Homo sapiens: one gene and its partners. The protein of the gene in region 4 interacts with the protein of the main gene of each other region in a pairwise test. Each region holds a gene or a part of one and is shown on either strand. Other genes may lie near its edges.

What was found.
Region 1: the proteins of ZFHX3 (region 4) and TACC1 interact in binary tests that used the Homo sapiens proteins (3 or more experiments, as listed by UniProt).
Region 2: the proteins of ZFHX3 (region 4) and POU6F2 interact in binary tests that used the Homo sapiens proteins (3 or more experiments, as listed by UniProt).
Region 3: the proteins of ZFHX3 (region 4) and BHLHE40 interact in binary tests that used the Homo sapiens proteins (3 or more experiments, as listed by UniProt).

Annotation. Positions count from the first base shown.
Region 1 is NC_000008.11:38,783,241-38,790,255, reverse strand, and holds the start of TACC1 (transforming acidic coiled-coil-containing protein 1), read right to left. Parts: upstream 3,021-7,015; 5' UTR 2,700-3,020; coding exon of another isoform or gene 2,674-2,699; coding exon 2,513-2,673; intron 2,151-2,512; exon of another isoform or gene 2,010-2,150; intron 1,553-2,009; coding exon 1,437-1,552; intron 1-1,436. UniProt on the Homo sapiens protein: Involved in transcription regulation induced by nuclear receptors, including in T3 thyroid hormone and all-trans retinoic acid pathways. Might promote the nuclear localization of the receptors.
Region 2 is NC_000007.14:38,974,016-38,980,909, reverse strand, and holds the start of POU6F2 (POU domain, class 6, transcription factor 2), read right to left. Parts: upstream 3,002-6,894; 5' UTR 2,957-3,001; coding exon 2,852-2,956; intron 1,016-2,851; exon of another isoform or gene 1-1,015. UniProt on the Homo sapiens protein: Probable transcription factor likely to be involved in early steps in the differentiation of amacrine and ganglion cells. Recognizes and binds to the DNA sequence 5'-ATGCAAAT-3'. Isoform 1 does not bind DNA.
Region 3 is NC_000003.12:4,982,401-4,985,823, forward strand, and holds the end of BHLHE40 (class E basic helix-loop-helix protein 40), read left to right. Parts: intron 1-435; coding exon 436-1,292; 3' UTR 1,293-2,923; downstream 2,924-3,423. UniProt on the Homo sapiens protein: Transcriptional repressor involved in the regulation of the circadian rhythm by negatively regulating the activity of the clock genes and clock-controlled genes.
Region 4 is NC_000016.10:73,045,100-73,052,372, forward strand, and holds the start of ZFHX3 (zinc finger homeobox protein 3), read right to left. Parts: upstream 3,030-7,273; 5' UTR 2,723-3,029; coding exon of another isoform or gene 2,653-2,722; exon of another isoform or gene 2,479-2,652; intron 1-2,478.

The DNA of each region.
Region 1 (7,015 bases), on a different chromosome or scaffold from region 4:
GTGTCCTCACAGGAAGGGCACGGTAAGACAGATACATAGGGAGAAGATGGCCATGTGTTGAGACAGAGACTGGAGTTCTGCTGCCACAAGCCAAAGAACACAAAGGATTGCAGACACCCAGCAGAGGCTAGAAGAGGCAAGGACAGACTTCCTGGAGCCTTCAGAAGAGCAAGGCCCTGCCAACACCTTGACTTGAGACTTCTGGTTCTGATTTCAATTATCCAGGACTGTGAGAGAATAATTTCTGTTATTGTAAGCCGCTAAGTTACTCTGTTATGGCAGCCCTTGGAAATGCATATGCCCTCCAGTGGCTTTCCACCTTACTGAAAACCAAATCCTCACTGCAGCAGCATCTGGACCTCCTCTGACCACGCTGACTTCAGCTCCTCCTGCTCTCTGAGTAGTCAGTCCACACTGACCTCCTGGCTGGTCCTCAAACTGTACCATGAACCCTCCACCTTACGGCCTCCCTGCAGCAGGCTGGTGCTGTCAGACCTTTGCAGATGCCACTCCTTCTGCTGGAAGGGTTCCCACCTCAGGAACCTCCAAGGCCTGCTCCCTCAATCTGCCTTCAGGTCTCTGTTCAAGTCACCTAATCATGAATGCCCCCACTAACTCCCCTTCAGCCTTCCCTATCCCCACTCCATATTCCCTATTCTCTTCCCCTGCTTTATTTTTCTCCACAGTGCTTCACACAAGCTGACATAGATATTTTGCTTAACCCTTCACAGGTTCTCCCTCCACAATGTTAGCTCGAGAGAGCAGGACTTCACTGCTGAATCACAGTGCACTCTATTTAGTAAATAAGCATATGAATTCTGTTGGGATAGGTGAAATTTTATTCTGAACTGGCTGTGTGACAAAAAAGGTTTCTACTAATTAAGTGAGACAACGGAAGCTCCTGCAGATGAAGGGCTGGGCTCTGAGGGGCTGGGAGGGAATCCATGTGCCAGGTTTTCCTAAGTAGACTGAAGGGCTCTCACCACATCCCTGCATGGAAGTGGGCGAGGTGAGTGATTCCGAAAAAGCCTCTTAAGAACCTCCCTATCAAAAATTAAGTCAAGTCTTACCTGTAATTTTTGTCTCCAGCCACACCCCAGTAGAAAGCAACTTAGCCTGAGGAATTTGTGAAGTCAAATATAAACATGATCTTCCTACTTCATTACTATACATATTTTTTTAGGGGCTGAGGAGAAAGGCCTAGTAGGAATGTTTGATAATGATAATCTTATACTGCAAATGCACAAACTCTACTCAGAGGAGAAAGCCTCGATCACCACACCCCTAAAAATACATAAGCCAGGAGGTTTCAAACAGCTCTTTCTTAGTCAAACTCTCTTAAATGGTCCTAAATTTACACTTTTTTCCTTCCTTCATTGATATTTTTCAAAACTTTTGAAACAAAACAGGCAGGAAAAATGCAAGTTTTTCTTTACCTTGGCTTTTGGCCCCAGGTCCTGCCAATCCGAGTGATGGATCACAGGACTCCTTGAAAGGTGATCGGATCGGGGTTTCAGCTTCAGGAGTCTCAAAATTACCTTCAGAATCCGAGCTGCCAAGGAGGAAAAATGAGGAATTACCACTTTCAACGGTATTTCCGACACCCTTTGAAATCTACATATTCACAGAGGCTAAAAGTCCAGCACTTTTGTCTAACTTCACAACCAACCGGTCCTCAGCAGGGTCTGACCTGCGGGAGGCAACTGCGGTCTCTGAGCAGTGCCCTCCTTGGGTTTCTCAGGCTGGCATCCTGTCTCTCTGAAAGCTCCTCCATTCCCTGGAGCTTTTCTCCAGCACCATTTATTTTCGAGGTCATCCTTCCCTCAGACACCTGAAAAATGCGCTTTTCCAACAGACTCCTTTTGTCACAAGAGCCCTTTCCCAGAGGCTTTAACAATTAATACTGGTCCCACCCCCGAGTTAGGCCGATGCTAGGCATTCCTCTTTGCTCGGTAGGCCTCTACCTGCTGGAACTCCCTGGGCCCGAGGCTAAGAATGGTGTCACCTGCCTTCCGCAATCACGCGGATGACAGCCCGGCAGAGACCACCATTTCCCAGCAGCTGCCAGGGGCCTGTCATCACGCGACCTTCTTCACCGCGGCTGCGTTTTGGGTACACGGTAGGGCCCCGGGAAGGGCCGGGGAGCGACTTCTTCCCCACGGGGGGGCCCTAAGTTGCACTGGGTTAGATCAGTGACGTTGCTCCAGTGTGGAGGGGCGGGGGCTGGGGGTCGAAGCTTAGAGAAAGTGACCGAGGCCAGCGGGGATGCGGAGAGACTGCAGATTCTGGGTTGGGTGCGGAACTCTCCTAGCGAAACGGGGGCCAGAAACCCCACGGGAGGACAGAAGATCCTGAACTTTCGGACGCACACGGGGACCCGGCTCCGGGCAGGGACGCGGCACGGCCGTGAGGACGGTTTCGCGGGTGGCGACCACACACACGCACACAGAGGGAGTCGCAGATGGATGGAGGCAAGCGCGTCTGCATCTCAGCGGGGACGCCGTGTACTTGCCTGAAACTCAAGGATTTGGTCTCGGCTTGCGAATCCTCCTCCTCGGGGTCGCCCTCGGGCCCGCCAGCCTCGTCCTCGCCGGCGGCCCCGCCGCGTACCGCAGACCACGTCCATTTCGCCCACTGCACGGGGGACAGGATCTGCCACGGGCTGAACGCCATGAGCGCGGCTCCTCCGGCTCCAGCTCCTAGGGGCAGGGGAATGGGTGGGGAGAGCCTTTTTCCCTTTCAAAATGGAGGGAACCGGTGACAGGCGCCAGCAAGCGTTTCCAGCAGAGGCGCGGATGTGGTTAAACGAGTGCCGTCGGGGGCCCTGGTGGAGCGCTTCCTCCCGCCGGCAGCCGGCGCTGCGTCCTCCTCGGCCTCCTCCCCTCACGGTGCGGCCGCAGCGGGCCCCGCGCCGGGCTCCACTAGCCGGGAAGACGCCCGTCCTGTGGCCTCCTCAGGCCCCCGGCCCGCGGCGCCCGGCTGCTAGACCTCTGCTGCTCCCGCTCCCGGCTCGCGGACTCCCGCCTCCCGGCCGGCGGGGCGCGCATCAGCTGCCGCCGGAGCCGCGCCCCAGAAGCCGCCCCCTCGGACCGTACTACTCGCGCGCGCGCGCGGGGGCGGCGGCGGCGCCGGGGCTTTGAAGACGGCCGCGCGCCCGCCGGATCCCCCTACCGCGGCGTCACGCTGGTCGCGGCCCGACTGAGGGCCGGGGCTTGCCGGCTGCGCGGGGAGATTCGGTCATACCCCACAGGTCCGCCGGCGTCCGGGGCAGAGGAGGACCGTTTTCTGAGCCGGGGCACGCTGTCCTCTTCCTCTTTCCTTATTCCTTTTTAAAATTTTTTTAAACATTTTCATCTTGCCACTGTGACTTCACGGCGATGGTGATATTGGACTGCACACAAGCCCCTTGTTACCAAAAAAAAAAAAATACAAACCTTCGCGGCCGCTGTGGACTGTTGTTTTCCCCTCCCTAACCCTGGCAGCGTGGGGGATTTCAGCCTGTTCATCTCCATCCCTGGCATTCCCGGGATTTGAAAATCCCTTGGCAAAGCCACAAGAGTGACCGAGGACTGGAATTTAAGATGCCCTCCCCCTCCCCAAACCGCACTCGGGGAGGCTTCCCAAGTGCCCAGGTCTTGTCTTAGGTAAAGGGTACTAAATTCCCTGTGAGATTACAGCCTGATGGGTTTCCCATTCTCCATATTTATTTATTTAAAATACAGACAGGCGTCTCGATATGTTGCCCAGGCTGGTCTTGAACTCTTGGCCACAAGCGATCCTCCCGCCTCTGCCTCCCAAAATGCTAGGATTCCAGGCCTGACACCGCGCCTGACCCCATTCTCCTTTTTGAGATTTTCTTTTCGTAACTTCTAAGTCTTTGATTTCTGACTTATTTCGCTGCTTCAGTAACAAGCCAAGAGGCCTGGCGACATCTTTAGGTTTGAAGGCAATGGGAAATAGCTGATGTTCTCCATTTCCCATGGAGGGATTTCATGTAGGGATTGTTCCTCTCAAAACCACCAAAGCACCTTCTTCCAAGTGAATCGATTGCCTCAAACACCAGGCTTAATGATCTCCTTGCCTGGATAAGGTGTTCCAGGTGGTACTGTAATTTCCGAGTTGTGGTGCATCCATGAGGTGCCTGCAGGTTCCCACAGAGACAGCAGCTCCAAAATGTGCACGTTGAAACTTGCAAGAGACTAACCGTTGCCTCTGAAAGCAGTTGGCATGTATATTCATCGTGACTGTTTTACACATTTGATAACAAAAACAGGAGCAAAATACAAGATAAGGCTTGGCAGGGTAGTTTTACCAAAACCGAAGGGCAGGAGTTAACCTGAAGTCTAGAGAAAAGAAAGGGGTGGGGTGTCAGGATGCTTTCGAATTCATCCTGGCTTCTTCCCAGAAATAAATTGTCATGAGTGTTCTAGCGACTATAAAGAAGTGAACTAGGCAGGAGGTCCATGTGAAATATATCACACCACTTATCCAACTGTTGTAGTTTTAGGTTTATGCTTACCCAGTAAAACTTCAGGTTCTACAGTCCCCCAGGCTCCTGGATTTGACACAGGGTTCTGTTTCTGGGAAATAATATTACCCCAGCAAATCAGTAACTAGCATACACTAGGACCTGTTCTTCCTCCTGAATAGTTCTCTTATCTTTTCATTCCTTTGCATCCCTGTGGTGACTGACATAGTTCCCGCACTCCCCATCTTTCATGATCTACTGTAAATAACTCCCACCTGGTTTTACCTCTGAAGGTTTTCTTGCCTGAGGTCACCCCTGCCTGGCTGATCAGTGACTCGTGCTCTAATCTTTCGGTTCCCATTCCCCTCTATGCCCATCCTTTTGTATTCCTAGCCACAGTGAGTAGAGAACTCGTTGTCAATCTTTAATATGCCCAAGAATCATCCGCCAGCCTTCTTAAAAAAATCCAAATTGCCAGCAGAGTCTGGAAATCTGTGTGTTCACTAAGTGTCCTGGGGAACTGTTATCACAGGGTAAATTTGGGAAACAGTGCCTAGCTTGAACCAACTGCTTACTGCTTCGGGAACAGTCTCCCTTTGCCTGCAGAGGGAGCTTTGCGAATTCCTGGAACACACCTCCTCCCCCACCCCAGCCCACCCCAAGTTCCCAGGCTTCAGCTGCTCGAACGTCCTTCAGCACTTAGCTCAAGTGTCTACAGGGGGAAGCAGGCTCATTGTCCTTCCTTTCTATCATTTCTATACCCCGAACATCCATAAAGAACACTTCCTGTGGCCTTAGATCTGAAAGTGAAAGACAGCATTCTTAATAGTTACACAGGGACTATAGGCATAAACCAGGACTGTCTCCAGAAGACCAGGATGTAAGGCCATTCTACACTTAGCACACCATATATAACATATTTATTTACATATCTGTCCCACAAGCTTCTAAAGGGACTTTACCCCCCTTTGGGACTTCCTCCAGAAATTAGGACAGAACCACACACTCAGTAGGTGTTCAATATATATGTAAGAAAAAACAAACATTCTAGTTTACAAATAGTCCTTGTGAGTTTGGCTAAGGTGACATAAATTCCTAAAGCCTGACTCCCCCTGGGGAAATCTAGTTTCTGGGCCAGAAAATAACAGAACCCAGGACCAAGTGATGGCCCCAGTAAGATTAAGCCTCACCTATGCAGCAATTTACTTTTTTTTTTTTTTGAGATGGAGTCTCACTCTGTCACCCAGGCTGGAGCACGGTGGTGCAGTCTCAGCTGACTGCAACCTCCGCCTCCTGGGTTCAAGCGATTCTCCCTGCCTCAGCCTCCCAAGTAGCTGGGATTACAGGTTCCTGCCACCATGCCCAGCTAATTTTTTTATTTTTTAGTAGAGACGGGGTTTCATCATGTTGGCCAGGCTGGTCTTGAACTCCTGACCTCAGGTGATCCACCCACTTCCAAAGTTCTGGGATTATAGGTGTGAGCCACCGCACCCGGCCTGCAGCAACTTCTTGAGACTGGACTAGCAAATAAATGCCTAAGGTTTCTGAAAATCACTCCTCTGCAAGTTCTTGAACTTAGTGTAAGCAGTAATGAATATGAGTCCATTAGCTGGACCACTCCTCTCAGTCTGCTGCTCCTAGTCCTGGCTTCGTTCTTACCTGGTACAGGTTGCAAAGTCACAACTAGGAACACTCTAGCCCTGTCAGTGAAGACGTGCCATTGCCAACAGGAGGCTGTGGCCACCCTATCTGCTTTTCTGCCCTACCTCAGTCTAACCAGGCAAGGGCATGATGATGTCTAATCAAGACAACATTGCCAATAACAGCATCTGACCGCATTCAAATATGTTAACATGACAGTCTTAACCTTGCAAGATCAGATATTTACCTAATTATCCTTTACCTGTAGACTACAAACATCTATAGAATTACAATCTTCCCTCCACTACCCAAACACCGAAATCAGGACTGTGTACAATGCATTTATACAGAAAATTATAAAGAGAAGCTCCTTTCTAATTTTTTAAAAGAGAGGTGTCAGGGTATGTTCATAGCTAATACTCTTTCAGGCTGGGTGCGGTGGCTCATGCCTGCAATCCCACACTTTGGGAGGCCAAGGCAGGCAGATCACTTAAGGTCAGGAGTATGAGACCAGCCTGGCCAACATGGTGAAACTCCATCTCTACTAAGAATATAAAAATAGCCAGGTGTGGTGGCAGGCGCCTGTAATTCCAGCTACTCGGGAGGCTGAGGCAGGAGAATCACTTGAACCGGGGAGGCAGAGATTGCGGTGAGCCGAGATCATGCCACTGTACTTCAGCCTGGGCAACAGAGTGAGACTCCATCTCAAAAAAAAAAAAAAGAAAATACTCTTTCAGAGTTCCAGGAAGATTAACAAAGATCCAAACTGCATTTATTAAAGACTTGGCTGAGCCCCCCACCTGGGGTCTGCTGAAAGACCCTTGCCCAGACTTTGCTCTGGTGAACAACTCTTGTCATATCCACCCATTGATCTGTTTTCTTCTGTATCACAGAAGAAAAGTTTGC
Region 2 (6,894 bases), on a different chromosome or scaffold from region 4:
CTGAGCTGGATCATGGCCAGAAACAGAAAAGTCTACTCTTCCCTACAGTGGAAGCAACTGTGGATATTTCATCCTAGGAGTGAATGAAAAAACCTAAAGCTCATACTTCATGGGAATCTTTCAATATTCTGACTGAAAACTGGTTATTTGCTCCTCCAACCCAAAGCCATCTAGGAACAGCACTCAGAACAGGAAAAAAAAAAGACAAAAATAATAATTATTCCAAAACGTATTTGAGCAGAAACAAACACAAACATTTGCATTATTAAATGGGCTTGTTCACACCTGCTGAGTAGATATAAGACGATATTTAAGACAAGAGCTAAAAAATAAACCATCCCTTTCTGGTTTTGAGTGACAGCAGAGCAATAAAAATTATTTTCACATTCTTTTCCCTATTGTTAGAAGTAATCATTTGAGTAAATACACTTATCTGTGCTGTAACTATTGAAATGAATCCACTTCAAATATGTATACCACCTTTCTTTTTTATATTTCTAGATATGGTTTCAATATAGACTTTCTGACTTTTATGGTATACATATAGGACAATATTCTATTCTTCTTTCCTTTTAAATACTTACTGTTTCAATTTCAAATAAAAAATCAGCATTCTAGTTTGTACATTTTAGCACAGAAATGTTTACAACCTTCAGCACAATTGCTTTTGTAATTTACTGACTTGGCATTTTGAGGCGTTTTTAACAAATTATGAGAAATAACACCTTCAGAAAGCATGTGACTACTTTGATGCAACTATTTACAATGTATTCATAAGAAGTCATTAACCTGTAGAGTTCTTAGACATGTGGAACCTTTAACAATTATACTAAAGAGTACATACAAAATACAGAGCTATGTAATAATAACTAATTTTAAATCCTGACAAATTAGAAGTTAAGCCTACTATCTGTAAAAATATGTCCTGATTCATTTTTTTAAGTATATACCTGAGCCTTTAAAAAGTATATGCCTTTACAATTGATTTCCAATAAACAATACTGAATAACAAACTACAAGTGACTTTCCTGATTTTTTCACCAGAAATATATAGAAAAAGGAAATCCTATTCTTATTAGAGATTGAAGTACAGTAATTCTGCACGGTATTAAGAACCATAACTATGCCATACAGAAGACAGGACCTGCAACCTAAGAAAAGTTTTATTAAACAGGACAAGACAGTGATCAGGGGCTCAAGTTTTATTTCAATATGCAAAAGTCATCTATTGTAACAGATATTTATTTCATTCCCTACACCACAATTATTTTAGCTATATTTGATATATTTGCTCGTCAGTGAGTACTTACATTGAAACAGGTATTAAGAGTATATAAAATCAGTTTATATATTTTCTCCTGCCTAGAGACTTCACTTTATATATGCTTATAGAACAAAAATTAACTTGAAAGTTTTAAAAAATATTTCTCTGTCGAAGCAAATATCTACTTCTTTTAAAATAGTGTGAGCCTGTGAAAACATGGTATTATGTATTTGACATTTTCCATCTAAAAATACATTATGAAGCAAGCATGCTGGTATTAATAAACCATGTGCTTTCAGAACCCTGAAGTGCTTTTCTATAATTTTGTTGAAAACAGAATAAGATGATATATTTTCCACCATGCTATTAACATAAAGCAAACAAATTTTATGTCATTGCCTTGCCAGCTTGTCTTGATTGGAAAGTGTACAAAAAAAAAAACTTTTAGGAGTTTATAAATATTCGTGACCATAGTCTGGTTTATGAGTTAACAATCCATAAGTAAACATAGATAACTTAGAAAAATTTAGTCAAAAATACATTACAAAAAAGAAAAGAAACCATGTATATTTCCTTTTTCCTTACCCCACCCCCATCATAGTCAGAAAAATCACCCTCCCTTTGCAGGAGGGTACTATCCTTCCTTCCACCACTTTAGTTATCTGAAGGCAAATGAAAATACAATGATCCTTTTCGTTTTCTGATTTAGCTTACAACGCAAACATTTTAACACAAACATAAACTACTGACTTCACGGAAAGCACCAAACAGAAAGAGCAAGATTCACTGACCCATTTGGAAGACAAAGACGACAGAGCGGGAAAGCTCTAAAAATCAGCTTGTGAGGCCTCTGAGAGATATTCTTCTGGCATTTCATCACAGCAGCCCCAGACCAGCTCACCTCCCTAGATACAAGGAGGAGGCACTAAATGGAGCTGTTTATTAAAGCTGCTGTGCTGGATTGCATTAGGAAGCGCGAGCAGACCACCTGGACCTTTCAAGATTGTGACAGTGTTTAATTTGCAGCCTGCCCTTCTGCAGCAGCCAAGACTACTACTACATTTACCGGGCTCAATCACACATTATCTGGGTTAGAAGTCAAGGCACATGTATTTATATATTTATATTTCCCATATGGAGAAAGGGAGAGAGGGAGAGAAAGAGAGAAGGAGAGAGCACAGTCAAAATAAAAATATTGAACAGCATTAGAAAAATATTAACTACTACCTAGGAAACCACACTTGATTCTCTTCTCGCACTTTCTTTCAGAGATCAAAATCCAAAAAGAAAGCAAATTTCTAAAATAGATTTTTAAGAAACATTCAGACCAAATTATAAATTAGATTTATTCTCCAGTGTTTTTGTTGTTGTTTTAGTTTTTGTTTAAAAGGATCGCATTGAAGTTTTAAGCTGAGGTTTCCCTGGTCAGATTTAATGGGTGCCTTTTGCCTTTCGCACTTTCAGCACTACACTGGCAGGTAGCTGAAGATACAGATAGAAAGATGGTACTGTAAATATGAATTATGTGAATCATATGGTGAGACCCTTGTGGAAAAAAGGGGAGTTGAGAAATGGCTGACTCCATACCTGACCAATTACAGCTTGCATGGTCCCCGTGTCCTGCTGCGCTGAGAGATAGCAATCCATCATATGTTGTCTTTGAAAAGGAGAATGGGGGTTTCTGGCATGCATCTGTCAATCAACTTCTGCACTCACAACCATCACCAAAAGCAAGGGGAAAAAAAGTCAAGCTGCTCCACCAAATAGAATGAAACCGTCATGTGACCTCCGGCAGACACGCACACACACATTCACTACCTCCACAGAGCGTAAGAATTTTCTGTAGATATGAAATGACATTGACAAATATCCAATACCAAGTAAATAAAGTGAGACAAACAGCTATTCACCAAAGACAAAAACATGGGCTGTAATCTTCCGCTAAAGGTTTAACAAACCTATGAGGATTGTTTTTAATGCTCTAGAAATCTATGTTTAAAACAAAACAAAAACAAAATGAACTATCTCAAATGAGTGTCCATTAAGACTTTGATTTTTGTGCTATTATATACATTTTTAAAATTACAGTTCATTGCTCTACTTTTCTTAAGGGGTCCCTAATGATTTTATTTTTAAAATCTCTAAATGACCTTTTGATAATATGCAGTTATCTCTGTTGTTTTATATAAGGACACCTTTTCAGAGAAGCTTGAAATGTGAACTGCTACATAACAAACACCCTGATATTTGTGAATTGGAAGTGGACATAGAAAATAATCCGTGTAAATGATGATGACCACTGTAATATAAAATATTCAAAGTGTGTAAATAGCAGTCACTAAACTTTTTATCTTCTGAAAGGTAAGGGATGATTTACTTGCAGCTCATCTAAACTGATGTAATGTGTTTTTAATGTGATGACAAGTATTTTAACTTTCTAAATTTAATTTTAACTATCTGATTCCTCACAATCTAGGGACAGATTGCTAATGCATTATGGGTCAGTTATTGTTAAGGGTGAAAAGAATATAACTTACCAACTTTTTAACCTTCTTAGGCTAAAGATCGGAACCTGACTTTCAAGACAATCCTACAGGTATTGTAAAGTTGCTCTCCAAAAACCCAAACCCATAAACACCATCCGTTAACTTGGTGGCTTTGTGGCAGTGAAGAACATTCGCATTTGCCTACTTTTTTTCTTTTTTTTTTTCATTTGCCTACTTTTTAACTGAAGTTCATTAGTTAGTATACTCTCCCTAACTTTTCAAAACAAATTTATGGGAAAACCTTGTGTTAATATTAAAATGGAGATTTTTTTCAAGGCTCTAAACTGATGACAGGTCGGGTAGCAATGAGAAATATTTAATACAGAATATATACTATTATGTATATTATTGCATAATACCCACGGCTTGAAAATTAATCAAAAGGAACTTCAAGTAAGAAAAAAAAAACAAAACAATTTTCAACATTGTTAAAGAAATCTTTAGGAGCAAAGAATGAAGGACCGAAGCGCGCGCGCACACACACACAAACACACACACACAGACACAGACACACACACAGTTAAATCAGCATCCCCAAATAAAATGAGACCGTGCACCAACTGGGTAGCCCTCCTGGGAGCTGAGGGCTAACTGAGGAAAGGCCCTTCTCAACATCATTAAATGTCCCGTCTGCGCTGAAGTCCTACCCGGGGGTTTCTGCAGTTATCCCAGATCAGAACCTCAGGCTTCCCATCATCTCCTTTGGCCAGGGAAGGGGAGGCCAGGGAAGCCGAGCCTGGAGCATCGACAAGGACTGAGCCAAACTTGCCCGAAACCTGCGGGCTCACAGAGGGCAGGGGGCGCGACTGCTCCTGGCATCGCCTTCTTGGGACCCCGCCTGGGCGGACACTAGACAGAAAGCCAGGTGACGGGACCAGTGGGAAGTTGCGGAGGAGGGGCGAGCTGCAGTCCCAGGCCGCAGCAGCCGCTGAGCAGCCGCCCCCGCTTTCTAATTCTTGGGGGGTTTGCAGCCAAGCCTGGAGCGCACCCCGGCGGCACCGCCCTCCTGGGCGCCCGGGAGCCCCGCGCCCTCCGCCTGCGTCCTCGGACTTAGGCAGCAGAGCCGGTGCGCGGATGGCGTGAGCCCCGGGGTGGTTTTGGCGTCCTGCGTCCTCTGTAGTGCAGCCTGGGTTCCCCACGCGCTGCCACCCGATCGGAGGCTCAACTTCCCCTGGGATCTAAGCTTCTTAAGCGCCTTCCTATGGGGCTGGGGGCTGGGGGTGTGGGTGGAGGTGGGTGGGAGAGGCTGGCCAAGCTGCAGTATGAGGCCGAAGACCTCCTTTGAAGCTCTGTCCCACAAATTATGGTGGTTCCGATTGGCGTAGGGACAACACTCTTTGCTTATATTCCAGTTGTTTACATGACCATCTGGCCTGTATGAATTATAATTATTACTAGCCAGCGTTGATGGGAGGCTGAGCCAGGCACTGTGTCAGACACTTCACAGTATGTTACATGTGAAATAACAACTCAGTGAGGCAGAGATGGTTATTCCCATTTTGCAGATTAGGCTCAAAAAAAAAAAAAAGGTAACAACTCATGATTAATAGGAATATGATTTGAACCTGCTCTGAATCCAAAACTGGAGCCCCTTCATATGAAACCACAGAGTCAAGTAACATTCACAATAGTGACTATCACACATGAAGCACCCACTCTTCCGCACATATTTATGGAACCTGTACTAGGTGCCAAGTACTGTATTGGTGTTAGCGCAAAACAGCACAGATTGCTTTAGAAACATAATAAAAATAAACCAAATGGTTAAAAGATTTATCTGGGGGAATTGTTTGATGCTAGCTGGTGGAACATGCTGACACTTTAGGCACCATAATGCATGGGCTCGGGTTGGGATGGACTCCCTCCCTGACCTCTCAGAGAGTGTGGCCTTGAGAAAGTGCCATTTCTCTGAGTCATGGATTTTGTGTCTTATACCAGTGATAATAATCCCTCAAGGGTAGTGTAAGGATTTGGGGAGATAATGTTTTGTGAAAGCTTATTGAGCTATACTGTGTAAGTGCCCAGCAAGTGTTAGTTATTTTCCCATATGGGAGGTCTATGGAGGGCAGGAAAGATTAATTCTCCTGGGGAAGGGAGGAAGCCTCTATGCAGATGGTGAAAAGATTTGGGTTGTGATATAAACAGAGGGCAGCTCCTGTTCAGGGCAAGGGAAACAGCATGAGCAAACCATCTGTTTCTCCATCAATGTGGGTGGCAGACACTTCTAAGGTTTGATTAATGGAAAACAAATGGGAGAGAATGGGGGTATGCCAACTAATATTGATTCCCATTCCCACAGTAGCATTTTAGGAAAGGAGACTCCTTGAGTGAAATATTCACCATTACCATCATCTCTCTGTTTTCTTACCTCCCATCAAATTTCCATAATATTGTGCATTTTCTGGCCCTCTAAAGCCCACTCCTTGATCGCGAAGCAGCTAGATATGTCCTTTTCCAAGATACTCTTGTAGGCAAGGCAGCAGTGATGGCAAAAGGTCACCGTAAGTCAAACCAAAAGAGGTCCCACCATTGCCCAAAATCCCAGTCCCTAGCTTCTCAGGATAGCGATGTCCTTGATTTCTTAAACCACAGAGGACACTGATAGATAAATGGAGGACTGGGAATCAAGATAAAGTGCAGAAGTTGGTCATCTCCATCTTCCTTTGTTTTGATGAATGTTTTGCAATGTTTAGGGATGAGAAGAGCTAACATACCTGGAGGCTTCTTTAATCCAAGGACCAAAAGCAAAAAAAAAAAAAAAGTGAACAGATGGTTCAAAAAGTCATCAAGACACTCTTACTAGACTTAGTATATTTCTACTTATGCTATCATAACATGTAGATGTAATACAAATCGATATGACATGCCTTTCTCTCTGTTGAGACCTGTTCTTTTTGTTGTAGTTGTTTGCTTTTTTGTTTACGGTTTTACTCTTTTTTTTTTTTCATTTCTCTGTTACTTCTTGCTTTTGCGTACATACCTTTCCTGGTTTTTAAAAGACTAACTTACCATTCCTCTGACTCGTTTTATTTTTCATTTTAAATCTCCCACCCCTAGTTTACTAGACTCCAGTCTTCTTCCTAC
Region 3 (3,423 bases), on a different chromosome or scaffold from region 4:
CCTCATTTTATAACTATCCAGCCTCTGCCCATTTTGCCACGGTGCAATGTTGTATGCATTGACTCTTAGGTTTATAAATACATCAGAATGTTCTTTGCTGCCTCGCTTACATGGAAAACTCACAAACCACCTATACAATCCAAAAGAGGGGAAACAGCTCATCTCATATTAATTATGGTCCATTTCCATGATAGGATATTATGCAACCATTAAAAATCATATTTTATCTGAGTGTTAGTATATGGATTATTTTAATTATTTATACTTTTCAGTGTAATTCTTCTCTGAGCATACTACTTTTGGAGTTAGGAACACAAATCAGTAAATGCATTTTTTTTTTTAACAAAAACTAAAGCACCTGGTTTTTTGGAGTATAGTTTCCAGGTGCGCCACAGGCCTTCTGAAACGTTTTCCTTCGGATTTTTCTTTCCCCAGGTGAGCTGTCAGGGAGAAATGTCGAAACAGGTCAAGAGATGTTCTGCTCAGGTTTCCAGACATGTGCCCGGGAGGTGCTTCAGTATCTGGCCAAGCACGAGAACACTCGGGACCTGAAGTCTTCGCAGCTTGTCACCCACCTCCACCGGGTGGTCTCGGAGCTGCTGCAGGGTGGTACCTCCAGGAAGCCATCAGACCCAGCTCCCAAAGTGATGGACTTCAAGGAAAAACCCAGCTCTCCGGCCAAAGGTTCGGAAGGTCCTGGGAAAAACTGCGTGCCAGTCATCCAGCGGACTTTCGCTCACTCGAGTGGGGAGCAGAGCGGCAGCGACACGGACACAGACAGTGGCTATGGAGGAGAATCGGAGAAGGGCGACTTGCGCAGTGAGCAGCCGTGCTTCAAAAGTGACCACGGACGCAGGTTCACGATGGGAGAAAGGATCGGCGCAATTAAGCAAGAGTCCGAAGAACCCCCCACAAAAAAGAACCGGATGCAGCTTTCGGATGATGAAGGCCATTTCACTAGCAGTGACCTGATCAGCTCCCCGTTCCTGGGCCCACACCCACACCAGCCTCCTTTCTGCCTGCCCTTCTACCTGATCCCACCTTCAGCGACTGCCTACCTGCCCATGCTGGAGAAGTGCTGGTATCCCACCTCAGTGCCAGTGCTATACCCAGGCCTCAACGCCTCTGCCGCAGCCCTCTCTAGCTTCATGAACCCAGACAAGATCTCGGCTCCCTTGCTCATGCCCCAGAGACTCCCTTCTCCCTTGCCAGCTCATCCGTCCGTCGACTCTTCTGTCTTGCTCCAAGCTCTGAAGCCAATCCCCCCTTTAAACTTAGAAACCAAAGACTAAACTCTCTAGGGGATCCTGCTGCTTTGCTTTCCTTCCTCGCTACTTCCTAAAAAGCAACAAAAAAGTTTTTGTGAATGCTGCAAGATTGTTGCATTGTGTATACTGAGATAATCTGAGGCATGGAGAGCAGATTCAGGGTGTGTGTGTGTGTGTGTGTGTGTGTATGTGCGTGTGCGTGCACATGTGTGCCTGCGTGTTGGTATAGGACTTTAAAGCTCCTTTTGGCATAGGGAAGTCACGAAGGATTGCTTGACATCAGGAGACTTGGGGGGGATTGTAGCAGACGTCTGGGCTTTTCCCCACCCAGAGAATAGCCCCCTTCGATACACATCAGCTGGATTTTCAAAAGCTTCAAAGTCTTGGTCTGTGAGTCACTCTTCAGTTTGGGAGCTGGGTCTGTGGCTTTGATCAGAAGGTACTTTCAAAAGAGGGCTTTCCAGGGCTCAGCTCCCAACCAGCTGTTAGGACCCCACCCTTTTGCCTTTATTGTCGACGTGACTCACCAGACGTCGGGGAGAGAGAGCAGTCAGACCGAGCTTTCTGCTAACATGGGGAGGTAGCAGGCACTGGCATAGCACGGTAGTGGTTTGGGGAGGTTTCCGCAGGTCTGCTCCCCACCCCTGCCTCGGAAGAATAAAGAGAATGTAGTTCCCTACTCAGGCTTTCGTAGTGATTAGCTTACTAAGGAACTGAAAATGGGCCCCTTGTACAAGCTGAGCTGCCCCGGAGGGAGGGAGGAGTTCCCTGGGCTTCTGGCACCTGTTTCTAGGCCTAACCATTAGTACTTACTGTGCAGGGAACCAAACCAAGGTCTGAGAAATGCGGACACCCCGAGCGAGCACCCCAAAGTGCACAAAGCTGAGTAAAAAGCTGCCCCCTTCAAACAGAACTAGACTCAGTTTTCAATTCCATCCTAAAACTCCTTTTAACCAAGCTTAGCTTCTCAAAGGCCTAACCAAGCCTTGGCACCGCCAGATCCTTTCTGTAGGCTAATTCCTCTTGCCCAACGGCATATGGAGTGTCCTTATTGCTAAAAAGGATTCCGTCTCCTTCAAAGAAGTTTTATTTTTGGTCCAGAGTACTTGTTTTCCCGATGTGTCCAGCCAGCTCCGCAGCAGCTTTTCAAAATGCACTATGCCTGATTGCTGATCGTGTTTTAACTTTTTCTTTTCCTGTTTTTATTTTGGTATTAAGTCGTTGCCTTTATTTGTAAAGCTGTTATAAATATATATTATATAAATATATTAAAAAGGAAAATGTTTCAGATGTTTATTTGTATAATTACTTGATTCACACAGTGAGAAAAAATGAATGTATTCCTGTTTTTGAAGAGAAGAATAATTTTTTTTTTCTCTAGGGAGAGGTACAGTGTTTATATTTTGGAGCCTTCCTGAAGGTGTAAAATTGTAAATATTTTTATCTATGAGTAAATGTTAAGTAGTTGTTTTAAAATACTTAATAAAATAATTCTTTTCCTGTGGAAGAGAAAGATGGTCTCCTGAGTTTTTTAAAATAGCTCACTTGGTGTGATATGGCTGACTCCCATGTCCTTCTTTCTTGGCTGAAGCAAACCAGTTAATCTCAGTGTAATTTCATTCAGCTTTTCATGTGCTTTGTATTCAATCAGAATAAGCTTAGTCAACCTGGCAGGTAAATATTGGTTCAATTTTTGTTTAACCCTTGCCAGGGGTTCATGATCATCCTCTACCTCTTTCCAGAGTTAAGTAAAAAGCATATTTTCCCCTGCCTGCTTTCATCGTGGTCCTTGGAACTTGACAGAAAACCAAGGTATGACACCGTGGGCAGCAGTGTCTGGGGAGCCTGCTGGAGGGAGAGGCACATTGAGAAAAGATTTACTGGATTATTATGCAATACTAATTGATGCTAGGATAGCACCTCTTTGCCAAAGCAGTCTAGCTTTTTCAAATCTAGCAAGGTCTAATGGATTTGCCATATCCTGTCTTATTCCTGCTGGAGGCAACATTCCATAATTATTTTCTACATCCTTCCTGGACTTCCTCTCCGGTATGTTTGTGCGTGAATGCATATTGGGTGTTCCTTCGACAAGTGCTCTTATTTAAAAAAAAAAAAAAAAAATTCCATGGGAAAGGTGGGAAATGACCCTGTCGTG
Region 4 (7,273 bases):
ATTTCCAGATTCTTACTGATACTTTGTAGGTGGAAGAAAAAAAGCTCCTACCCCTGAAAGATACACCAAAAAGGAACAACTGCACACAGTGACAATAAGGACATGTTTCCTGGATGCTAGAACTAAGCCACATCACCACTAGCCCTAGAAATACTTTTCCAGCAGTCTGTAATCACAGATTTATTCTAATGAACTAACCACTTTTGGGTCACCAAAGATGAGCCAGGCCGGTCCTGGGAGTGTCTAGCAAGCATCATTTAAAGTCATAATGATGAAAACTAAATCTCGCTTATTTTAGCTCCTTGCCACTGGGCTGTCCAATTGGCACTGAGTTGACACAGCAGTTAAATTCAACCTCAAAGCAGCAAGAAGGCAGGCACTTCACTGTCCTGGTGGGAAGAGCCAGGCAGGGGCCTGTGGAGGGCACCGTTTTAGATGGGCCTTTCCAACCCTCCCTTAACATTCATTTGTGCAAACAAAAAATGGAAGAAAAGGAACCAAAATTAAGTTTCAGGTGGTTGGGGAAGCAGCATGGATTTACATTATTATTATTATTATTATTATTATTATTATTATTATTATTATTGAATAGTTAGCAAGTGTTTCTCAATAGTTCCCTGTTCATCAACACTGTTTTCAGGAGAAATGGAAAACAGTAGCTCTATTTCATAGAAAGTACAGCCATTTCAAAAAAAAAAAAAAAAGTGGGGGGGGGTTGTTGAGAGAGGGAAGTGACCCATGTCATAAAGACAGAAGGTCTCCAAGTCACTTAATTCCTTGTGATTCTGAAAGGGCTGTTTTTAAAGTCTAAAAGTGCTCGCTTCTGCATCTGCTCCATGTTGTTAAATAACACTTGTGTAATTAAATAAAAGAGCCAACTGTGACCCCAGCCCACTCTGAGAGGCACTTTACATGCTTTCTGAAAACTATGCTGGAAACACCATGAGGAGAACTCCTTAGTCCTGTAATTTAGCAAAGGGAGAGAGAAAAAGTTTCTTTTGGCCATCATAGCTACACACTCTCTGAAAGGGTGCCTGCAGGGTCTCTGCAAAACAGAATGAACACAAATACAGGCGTGCAAACATCCAGGTATGTACCTCTCTGTGAAGACCCCATTCTTGAAACCCTTCAATTATTTGGAACCGTGGTCTCCTGACTTCCCTCACACCTCACTTTTGCCTTCATTGTTTTTCATGTTTGAGTAGCAAGAGGGATTCAGAATCTCAGGCTGCCAGTGGCTGTTCTGATAACAAGGAGCAGACTCATGTTTCTTGCTACGGCCTTTCTTGATCAGGTTACCTTGGAAGGTGTATGTTTTCCTACCCAATGCAGTCCCCACCACAGCACTCTCGTGTCCTCCTCCAGCCCAGCCTCCTGGAACTCGTGATTTTCAGGGTTTCCCTTGAAACCTATCCAGAAACCACAGCCATTAACTGAACGTGAAGATTTGACACCTCCTGAATTCAGGAATGAGGGAACTCGAGGGGCCAACTCTACAAACTCGCACCTGCTGCTTGACGGCAAGGAAACAGAGTTTCCCCAGCTAGGGTGAGCTTTAAATTATACACTATTTATTTAGTGACTTGTCTCCAAGGATCTCAAAGCATAGAGAGAAATAAGATGATGTGTAACTTTCTCACAATCTACCTTCAAGGCTTTGCCCTGGTGCATTCTGACAAGCAGGACCCAGTATGAAGGAGAGGCCTTCCTTCTGTGCCCAGGCAGAGCCATCTGTTCTCTCTGGGGTTTTCTGTCAGTGGCTTTAGGGAGTCTTCAAGGACTGTTAAATGACACAGAGGGTGGGGGGAGGGATGACCCTCCTGGATTCACCTGCTCACGGCTTTCACTTAAGCCAGTTTAACACAGGAGGTACCACTGTGCCACGCAATTCCCTCTTAGCACACACCATGCGTGAGCTGCAGTCTTTGCCCTCCAGGCCTTTTCCTATCATAACACAGGTGTGTCCAAGGCAGAAAAGAACATTTTCCAGAAGGTTCGTTTCCCTCCAAGCCTACAATGCTTCTTTTTGTTGTTATTGTTTTTCTGCTACTGACCTAAACATAGGCATTCCTCCTCCTAACAGGATAAAAATCTTGACTCTCTCCTTTGCATCAGCTCCCCACCCCGCCCCTGCCCAAGGAAATAAATGCTCTGACTTTTCCAAGAGTGCGAAAAAACTAAAATTAGAGGGTGGACAAGATGATCTCCAAAGGTGCCCTCCAGCTCCAAAACTCTGATTCTCCCTTTAATTACTCCACAAGCGCATTCTTCACATTGTTTCGAACTGACCAGCGACTTCTCCAGGGCTGAAAAGGGTGCATTTTTAGGCGGAGGCACCCAAACTTCTAAATGACACCAGTACCACAAGTATTCAGAAGGCAGGAACTAATCCAAAAGCAGACTCAGGAAAGGAGGAGGGAGGGGAGGACAGAGGGAAGGGAAGGAAGGAGGAAGGAAGAGCTTTACTGTGTGCCCAGCAGAATTTAGGCGCTCTCACCCTAGGTAGGTGGCAACTGGAGTCTGGGAGTTCAAGTGCATCCAGCCTGCCCTTCCCCCACACGCCCCAAGAGAATGGGAAGTTCAGCCAAGACTCGCAGCACCTGCCCGCGGCTCCAGGCCGGCTGCGCGGACCCGGAGGGAGGCTGCACTCACCTGGCACACCAAGCCTCCGCGCACCTCCGGAGGGAGGCGGCACTTGCAGGTCCGGGGGCCGCGCCGCCATGCGCAACAACGGGAAATTCCAGTGGCACCCGAGCCCCGAGCTCACCCACCCCAGGCGGCATGCTCCCCACCTCCCGCTGGCCCCAGGACTCGGAGGTGGCTCTGGTCAGGAGCAGGGGGCCCGGAGACAGGGGAGGGGAGCTCATGGTGGCGGCAGGGCTGGCGGTCGGCCCGTCCCCGGAGGGAGGTCCCCGGGACGCGGCGGGGATTCACCCACGGGGCGCGGCGCTGGCGTCCGGGTCCCCGGCCTGCCCGCCGCCGCCGCCTCCTCCTCTGCCGCCGCCCGCCCGGAATCGCTTTATGTAAATGAAGCCCAACTCGCAGTTTGCAGCGCGCACCGCCCGGGGAAGGGGGGCGGGCGGGGCGGGGGGCCTTCGGGGATCCACATTACACAGCAACAAAGCGGAAGGTTAATTTGAAACTCACAGCCCCGCTGCCGCTCGGCTCCCCGGGCAAAGCCTGACATCTACAGTCGTGCCGGGCGCAGGCCGGGTTGCTCGGCGGCGACCGCGCCCGCCCGCCCGCAGGGACCCGGGGACGCACAGGGACGCGCGGGACCCGGGCGCTCAGCTGCGCTCGCTCCGCTTGGGGCGCGGGCCTTGGGGCAGGCCGGGGGTCCCGCGCACCCGCCTGGGGCCAGGAACCCTCGCCGCTCGGCCTGCGCCGCCCCGGGAACCGGCCCCGGCGGGAACAAAGCCCAGGCCCTCCCGGAGGCGCTGACCCCTCGCTCATCAAAGGTCAGGGGCCGGCCTAGAATCGGGCGAGAAGAAAGGGACGCGCCCTCGGCCACTAAAAGGAGCCTGAGGCCTCCGAACCGGAGCCATCGCTCCCTGGGCCCCGTCCACGTCACAGCCAGGCCACTCAAGCATGGGGACAGGAGCCAATGTGGACAGGAATTTATTGGAAACACACACCCATCCTATTAACTGCTTTACAGAGCACTTCTGTTTTTCAGTTGCAGAAACTTATAAAAACATCCCCCTGCTCTCCGTTGAGAGTTTAAGGATAGTTTTTGAGGCCAGAGAAAGAGAAAAGGAGAGATCACTAGAAAGATAGGAAGAAAAGAAGTGGGAAGAAAAGGAGATGCAGTCTACCATGTAAGCCTCCAGGCTCCTTAGCCTCACCTTATAAAGCCACATCACCGCAGAGATAGCAAAGATCGTGCCCTTTCCCAGGGAGTTCCTACCGCCAGGGTAAGATTTAAAGCGGCCACCCCAGTTGGTCAAAGTGATTGCTGGGCGCCTTTCTATCTCCCCAAGTTCACCTTTTCCAGTTGGTCAAAGCGATTGCTGGGCGCCTTCTATCTCCCCAAGTCCACCTTTTTCCATTCTCATCTGAAAGCCAGCCCCAAAGAAATCTCACCGGAAGTCCTCTGTCCTCCCTGTCAGAATCCCACCCTCAGTCTGAATTTACTCCCGATTCTCACAGCACAGAAAGGCACCTGCTTTTACCCTTTCTGAAAACCACCCACCCAGGCTGGCCTTACAGCCTGGAGAGTCTTTTCCTCGGGCACAATAATGAACCATGCAAGTGTTAGAAATATAATCAGCTCATGAGGCGAAGAGCAGTATGTATGGAATTGTATTAGCATGAGGCACACACTGACTCGGGAGAAAAAGGGATGCTTAGCTGGTGAAAACCATCACATCCCCGTATAGAAGGCTTTTTGCACAATGTAAGTTGGGTTCAGATTAATGTAAGTATCTAACCTGTTGGGTACAGACAGCCCCTTTCTACATTTTAGTCCAGAATAGATTCTGGGGAAATTTATTTATTTATTTATTTATTTCAGCTAAGGCCCTGGGAGAAAAGACTGCCTCCAGGGAATCATGTCCGATTAGGGACAAAGGAGGGCACAAGCCCAATTCAGTCACACGTGAGAGCACGGGGGCCGGGTGGGGGGAGTTAAGAGCCAACAGGGAAGGTGGAGGATGAGTTTGCAAACCAGACTATGGTCACTGCAGAGCTGCTTCCAGACCACCTGACTTCAGGCCCAAGAACAGGTGGTGTTTTCAAAACACACTGTTATTTATATTGGCCATATAAGTTGAGAACACCTTAAAGAAAACAATTAATAATTTAATTGAAAAAGTGACTATGAATAAGACATGAAGATGACGTATGCTAGCAGGACCGCAAGCAACGTGGCCCACAACGCAGAGATGCCTCTGGCAATCTCTCCGGAAAAACGAAGATTCCTTACCTGGGATAGGTAAGGCCTGCTGGATAAATTAAAGACAACAAGAAAATGTTGATACTCTCAGAAAATCTAATTTTGCTGCTTTATCTTCATTTTTATTAACAGGGGACAACCTCGTAATCTGGTGACATCATGATCCTGGTAGGCCCACAGACAAATACCTTCAATAAAATAAAAGCTAGAAAGCCCAAAGAACAAGCTATTAAAGTAACCTGGGAGGATGCAGCACTGCCTGGGCAGAAGGCCCGGACGGGATCTGCCCTAATACTGCCACTGTCCCAAGAGGCAGACCCTGCAACCTGCCTCCTGCACTTGAGAGGCCTGACAAGTAGAACTGAGAGTGACCCTGAGTTCCTTTTCTTTATCTGGCACCAGCTACACACATGATGAGGCCTAGTCAAGCCTGCCTTTGTTCCAGGCAAAAATTTAACAGGTAATCCACAGGCAGGTGATCTATGGCCTCTGTACATTATGGAAATGAGGGACTACACACAAGCTGGGTGTCACCTCTACTAAAACTCATTTTCCTTATTCATAAAAACAATACCTCTTCAGAGGGAATTGGCAACTTCTGCACTTACATATGAAATCAGGAGTTCCTCTGAAATACTCCTTGCAAATTCTATCCTCCAGCTCTGGAAGCCCTGGCTCTTCGGAGGGCAGCTGCCTGATGTTAAACCCATGGCCTACCCAGCAGTGACAGCCTGACATTCTCATCGCTCCATCCTGAACACTGCTGACAAATAAACCCACTCTCAGAAAAGGCAATTCTTCCCTCGCAGTTCTCCATACCCAGTCTCGTCTCATCTGGAAAGCGTAATTGGCAACAGCCGAAAGGATAAATATTTAAAAATAAATCAGGGAGCGCTAACCCCTTCCCTACTCCTCCCCTTACCCACTCTCCAAGCCAGAGGCCTGCCCCCTAACGCTGAGCTGGCTGGTAAATTACAATGATTCTACCGAGCCAAACCTGCTTGTCTCTCTCTTTCTCTACACATACACACTTACTAATGCTGTATCCTTCCACTTTTGCAAAGGTAAATATGATCTCTAAGATACAGTGGATGTCAGCATTCTGACTTCCAGCGTAACCTGGGCTCTCTTTTCACAGTACAGCGGGTTTAGACAGATTTGTGCACCCTTCCGGGTTCTTCTATTTTTATTAAATTATACGTATACATTGATTTTTAAAACTAGTGCTTAAATAACCCGGAGGCTTTAACAAAGAAAAATCCAGAAGAGGGCAAGAAACAAAAACAAACGTTCCTGAAATAAACAAGGAACCATTTGGAGCTGAATTGGCCTGAGTTCACCCCATGATTTTGAGGCAGTTATATTTAGGGGCCTGGTACCCGCTGGGTGGCCGAGCCCTCCTGGGTATGGAACAGAATGCAGAAGTTCCTCAGAACAGCTCACATTTGCCTTCATAACCATTGGAAGCTGGTGTGCCAAGGCCTGCACACAGATGTTTTGATTCACATTTTTCTGCTGAAGCCTCAAGGCCTCCATCCATCCCTACAGTGCTAATTCCATAGATTAATTTTTACCCCCAAATCGTAGGTGGAACATTATCTAATTTCCTTACCCACCCTCCCCAGCTCAGGTGCTAAATCTGTCAATGATATCCCACAACAAAGATACAAATGAGTAACCATTTTTTAAAAGCTGTGATTTCGGAGAGTTTTTCTAAATTAATTTTAAGTTACAAAGCCCCAAGTTTTAAGAAAGCCAAAATACAGAAGTTGCCTTAAAACAGCTTTACATGTTAGGTAAAGAGCTCTCTCTCTCTTTCTCGCTCCTTCTTTTTTAAACAAAAATATTATTTCTGAAAGGGCAAAGGGAATTTGCCATGCAAGACTTTTAAACACAGGGGGATTCTTACATTTGTGTTTCTAAACCTTGAAATTGAGAATTTTAATGAAAAGGCGGACAGATGCTTAAGGACAGCATCGCAATCTGGGTCCATACATTACAGGAGAGAGAGGCGCTTTGTTTGGGGCCAAGTAAAAAGAGGTGGGCTCCTATTTTGTTCATAGGCCATTCCCACCGTCTGACACATCCCTTTACAGTCGGTCTGATGCTAACCACTGAATTCTTGGAGGGGAAGCAGGTTGGAAGGAGAAGAAAGGAAAAGGGAAACAGAAGAGGAAAAGAAATGGGCGATGGGATACTGCCTGTTTATACAAATTGTAGATTTAAAAAAAAAAATCCCAACACGGTATCCATTCCATAGTATGTACCAAAAGCACTTTCACACGTGAGTTAAAACGATCCATTAAATGCTATATCGAAAGTACAACAACCAGGGTTGGAGTTTATTTTTTTTTTTTAATGAAGAATTCATTGAGGTTT